Regions from separate parts of the Homo sapiens genome. Here region 2 is linked to region 1. The links come from fine-mapping of genetic effects on gene expression. A gene starts in region 1. The other region holds a variant in brackets. All regions are shown on one strand. Distances are between the middles of the regions. Region 1 holds the start of USP10 (ubiquitin specific peptidase 10). Region 2 overlaps USP10 (ubiquitin specific peptidase 10).

Region 1 (2,500 bases):
TACATCATGCCGATTTTTGTCCAGAATAATTATAATGGCGGAGGGGGGAGAAGATGTGAGAGAAGGGGTGGGAGAGGGGAATAAGAGCTTAACTCTACACGCACATCTCCCAAAAAGAGCTCTTTCTTTCCACCACGGGATTATTGTAAAGGGCCCCCAAGCTTTAGCTACTGTTCAGGCAGGGTGCGTTAGTTGTCAGCCTGGCTGGGATGGATTCGTGCAAGGGATGTCACTCAAACGCAAGTGAAAGTACGGTCCTTGCGACTTATTTCGAGTTTTCTTTGCAACAGCAGCCCAAGGCCGCTACTCTGCTACTTCTATCTAAAAAACAGAAAATCGGCAACCCCCGCATCATCAATCAAGCTGAGAAAGGAAGCTCTTGGGGCAAAGGGGCAACAGGGCACCCCCAAATCTCTGAGGCTCGCTCCAGGCAGAGGCAGCAACCTGAGCTGCTCTGGGGCCCCTGCGCTCCAGGGGACTCCCGGAGCCCCCGGGCCGCCTCCCCCGGCCGGCGCGGCGGGGAGGGCCCCACTCCACACCCCGGGCTCGCCCCGCGGTCCAGCCCCAGGGAGGTTAACCCCTTCGGCGCCCTCCACGCCCTCCCCAAGCGGGGCCCGGAGCCCCCGCCCTTCGACCTCCCCGGGACTAGGGGGTCCGGGTGGCTCAGGGGACGAAGGCGCGGCGGGCGCGGAGGCGGCGGGTGGCTCCGGCCTAGGCCCGGGCAGCGTGTCCCAGCGCCCTCCCCCACTCCCACACGCTCGCTCCGGGCAGGGCGCGGACGCCCGCCCGCCGCGGCGTCCGCCCGCCCGGGGCTCGGGCCCCTTCCGGCCGAAGGCGCAGACCGGCGGCTACCTGCGGGCTGTGGAGGGCCATGGCTGCCCGTTTCATTGGGACTCCGCGATCCTCCGGCTGCTCACGCTGCTTCCCCCGCCGCCGCCATCTTCTCGCCCGCACATACACACTCGCATCGGCCGCCGCGCCTGCGCACTGGCCGCGCGCCGCGGGGCGCGGGGAGGCCGGCCCGCTGCTGCGCCTGCGCGGCCGACAGGTGGGCGTGCGCCTGCCGGGCCGCGGACATCCCCTGCCCCGCCTGGAGCCTGCCGGACTCTGAGCCCCGCGACCCTCGGGCGGAAGCGGCCGGGCGGCTGCACACCAGGAGCCCGCCGAGGCCTGGCTGTGGATCCGGAAGGGGAGAGGGCAGGCAGGTAGAGGTGGCAACGCCAAGGCGCCGGCGGGCCCGGCTCCTCACCTACTGGGGGCCACCTGGGCCCCCGGAGCCCGGGAGTCGCGGGCTGAGGTCGGCCTGGGGCCCACGAGCCGCCCTCAGCGTACCTGGGCCCGGGCCTCGGGAGTGTTCGCATTAGATCCCCGAGGAGGGTCTGGTTTATGAAGATCCCGTTGCCGCGCATTCATTCATTTGTTCACTCTTCATTCACTCCCCAAGTCCTGCCTGGGCGCCTGGGCCACGCCTTTGGCTAGGCATTAGGGGAAAAAAGCAAAACAGACAAAAACAAAACGTAGGGCATAAAAGCACGCGTAAAGTGCTTGACATGAGGCCTGGCAAGTAGCAAACACTCAGCAAGTGCTACGTGTTGCACACGTGCGTGCGTGTGCACGGGCAAACCAGCCTTGGGGGTCGTTGGTTCATTCATTATTAAGAAACAGGGGCCCCTGCCTAACTGCACTGTTTTCCAGCCAGTGGGTCCACCCTTGGGTTTTGGCCCCTTTTCTAGCTGTGATTTCAGACAAGCGACTTTCCTTCCCTAAGCCTTGGTTTCCTCACCTGTGAATAAGACAAATATGTCATAACGCGTAAGATTTCTGTGAGGTTCAAATTAGATTAACGTGAGCACACTGGCCAAGAGAATAGTCAATAAAAATTGGCTACTGGGATTGTTATTAATAACCATTACTATTGGTTTCATTTATTCAACAAACACCTACAGAGAGTCTGCTCTTGCTAGACCGTACACTGAGCAGAGGAGATGAACAGGAAGATCCATTCCCACGTTACATAAAATAGGGAGCCTGGTCTCTTCATAAATGGGATGCCATGAAAAATATAAGTGGGCCAGGCGCAGCGGCTCACACCCGGAATCCCACACATTGGGAGGCCGAGGCGGGCGGATCACTTGAAGTCAGGAGTTGGAGACCAGCCTGGCTAATATGATGAAACCCCAACTCTACTAAAAATACAAAAATTGGTGGGATGTAGTGTGGCACACCAGGCGTCCCAGCTACTCAGGAGGCTGAGGTGGGAGGATCACTTGAACCCCGGAGACGGAGGTTGCGGTGAGCCGAGATCGTGCCACTGCACTCCAGCCTGGGTGACAGAGCGAGTCTCTGTCTCAAAAAAAAAAAAAGAAAGAAAGAAAGAAAGAAAAGAAAAGAAAAATATAAGTGGTAGGGAGGGGTTGTTCCAAAATAGAAGAGCTAGAAAACATAACCAAATACAATGTGTCATCTTGCTTGGATCCTGATATGTCTTTTAAGCTGGTTT
Region 2 (3,013 bases), 65 kb before region 1:
CGCCAACCTGGACCTCAGCGTCTCCCTCCCAACACGACGTGTCCCAAGGAACCACAGACAGTGGTCAGGGCTGGGTGTTTCCCAGGTGACAACTGACCACCCAGCTGCCGTGGACACTCCACAGAGCACCAGAATAGAAAGGGGCCAGTGGAATAGAGCTCACAGTGCAGAACACAGAAGTGACTTGTTCAAGGTCACATGGCTGCTCAACTGGCTTCTAAATCCACTTCCACAGAGGACGGGAAACCAGCTTCTGAGGGCGTCAGCGCAGGTTTCTGAGGTTCTTATTATTCACCTGTTGAAAGTTGTTGATTCAGTCTCAGAACTGAGACTGAATCAAGTCTTGATGCCTCAAAAGGGGTGCTCTTTCTTTCAGGTACGCAGCATTTGGGACAACAACAGACTAAGAGTGTCACTGAAATACCAGCCTGGGGGTTATGCCGCAAGGCCTCAGAAAGGAAATTAGGCTCCAATGAGGCCTCTTCAGTACTTTCGATGGGTAAACCTTCTTGGAGATGGTACAAGTTTTGCTGAATTCCACATCACAGTGGTACTGAAAAGCTCTCAGGTAAATAAAGAAAAACCTTTCCGAAGGACTTTGTGAATGAGCAAAAAGCTGCTTAAGGGAACTGGCACACAGCCAGGTGCCCAGGGACTCCAGCCCAGTCACGGGTCTGTCTGTGTAAAAAAGACCTCCCTTCACACTCTCTTCACTTTCTACCTCACCTGCTTCCAATCAGTTCACAACAGCCAAGACAGGGAAACAACTGTCTGTGGATGGGCCAATGGATAAAGAAACTGTGGTGTGTATATATAGACAAGGGAACACTATTCAGCTGTAATAAAGACCCTGCCATTTGCCACAACAGGAATGAACCTGGGGAACATTATACTAAGTTAAAGAAGTCAGACACAGAAAGAAAAATATTGCATGGTCTCACTTATACATGGAATCTTTATTAAAAAAAAAAAAAAGACGAAACTACAGAGATAGGGAAAAGAGTGGTTCCTAGGGGTGGCGAGTGGGAATGGAAGATGTCGGTCGAAGGACACCAAGGGCAGCCACACAGGCGAACAGGTCTAGAGATCTGATGTGGAACATCGGACAAGAGCTACTCATAGTGCACTGTATTTGGGACTTTTGTGAAATGAGTAAAACTGCAGCTGCTCTTGCCATGTGCACACACACACACACAAGGGTAACTGTGATGGGGAATATGTTTATCTGCTTCACTGTAGCAACTATTTTACTATCTCTATTTCATAACATCTGTGTATACTTTAAATATACACAATTTATTAACATAAATAAAATTCCTCCAGATACACTGTCTTCTCTTACCAAAACACATGGTTTGGTTAGCTGGTTTTTTTTTTTGAAGACAGTCTTGCTCTGTCACCCAGGCTGGAGTGCAGTGGTGTA[A/C]TCTTGGCTCACTGCAACCTCTGCCTCCCGGAGGTGGTTTTATGTTGCAAGTTTTAAATGCAGATGAAGTCTAATATATATATATATATTTTTTTTTCTCTCTCTCTCGTGGTTATTGTTTATGACCTATCTTATGAAACCTTTGCCTACCCCTAAGTCATGATGACATTCTCCTGTATCTTTTTCTTTTTTTTTTCTTGAGACAGAGTCTCACTCTGTCACCCATGCTGGAGTGCAATGGCGCTATCTGGGCCACTGCAACCTCTGCCTCCTGGGTTCAAGCGATTCTCCTGCCTCAGCCTCCCTAATAGCTGGGATTACAGGTGCCTGTCACCACACCTGGTTGATTTTTGTATTTTTAGTAGAGACGGGGTTTCACCATGTTGATCAGGTTGATCTCGAACTTCTAACCTCAGGTGATCCACCCGCCTTGGCCTCCCAAAGTCCTGGGATTACAGGCATGAACCACCGCGTATGGCCAATTAGCTGGCTTTTCTCTTACTCCCTAGCAGTGAGCAGCTGAACTTGACAGAGTAGAAGGGAGGAGCTCCCTGTCCCCTGCAGACATGCGCCAGCAGGGAGAGAATAAGCCACGGGGGCTGACAAGGGAAGCATCAGGAAGTGCAAGAGAAGAGCAGGCAGGGGAGCAAGATGCAAACCATTACGTCCAAGAAGTCTCAAAACAAGCCTCACACCTTCCCCCTTCACCAACATGGCAAAACCCTAGAAAAGGCAAATATTAAGTTATTCCAGAAAAGCACAAACCTGATGTGTCCACCAAAAATGCCGGTGATTGGAGTCTGAACAAAATCCGCCTGGCGGGTGACGGAAGTCTTGTTCCGGGGGCCCACTTGTTCCCATTCATCCTCGCTTCCTTCACCTTGTTCTTCCTGCTCTTCTTCATTGACCGAGTGGTTTTTGGGGCCGTTGGAAATCGTAAGTTCTGAAAAGGAGAGCATCTGCTTACACTACTATTTACGACAAGAACAGCAAAAAAAAAAAAGGCACAGATCTGTCGATTGCAGTTTTAAAAATGAAATCAGGGTGTGGTCTACATTAGGAGCCACGGCAACCAATCGCAACAGGAGCAACGTCACTGGATCCACGGCCAATCGCAACAGGCACAATGTCACTGGATCCACGGCAACCAATCGCAACAGGTGCAACGTCACTGGATCCATGGCAACCAATCCCAACAGGCACAACGTCACTGGATCCACGGCAACCAATCGCAACAGGTGCAACGTCACTGGATCCACGGCAACCAATCACAACAGGCGCAATGCCACTGGATCCACTGCAACCCATTGCAATGCCACTTGATCCACGGCAACCAATCGCAACAGGTGCACCACCACTGGATCCTTGTTTACATAAACTCCTAGAAATGACATCCCTGGGACAACTGGCGAAATTTGAAGATGCTCTGCAAAGTCGGTATTACCGTGTCATTACAGTTGTTTTTCTCAGTTAGATAAGGGACTGTGGTTACGCAGGAGATGCTTTAGCACCTGAGATGAACTAAACTGTTAGCTGCAACTTAACTTTGAATCATTCAGGGAAAATGTATGCGTATGTATGTATATATGG

Evidence for each region.
Region 2: its variant is fine-mapped to the expression of USP10 in whole blood (TOPMed, PIP above 0.99).

The regions. Positions count from the first base shown.
Region 1 is chr16:84,698,464-84,700,963 of GRCh38, reverse strand. It overlaps USP10 (ubiquitin specific peptidase 10), which reads right to left and starts at 964. Exons shown (of 14, transcript NM_005153.3): 1 at 853-964. The coding sequence starts at 873. RefSeq lists silencers at 393-502, 543-652, 663-882, 973-1,492.
Region 2 is chr16:84,763,439-84,766,451 of GRCh38, reverse strand. It overlaps USP10 (ubiquitin specific peptidase 10), which reads right to left. Exons shown (of 14, transcript NM_005153.3): 10 at 2,189-2,366. Among named protein-coding and RNA genes, the nearest start is that of CRISPLD2, 55 kb to the left of the region's middle. The variant A/C (reference allele first, on the strand shown) is at 1,424.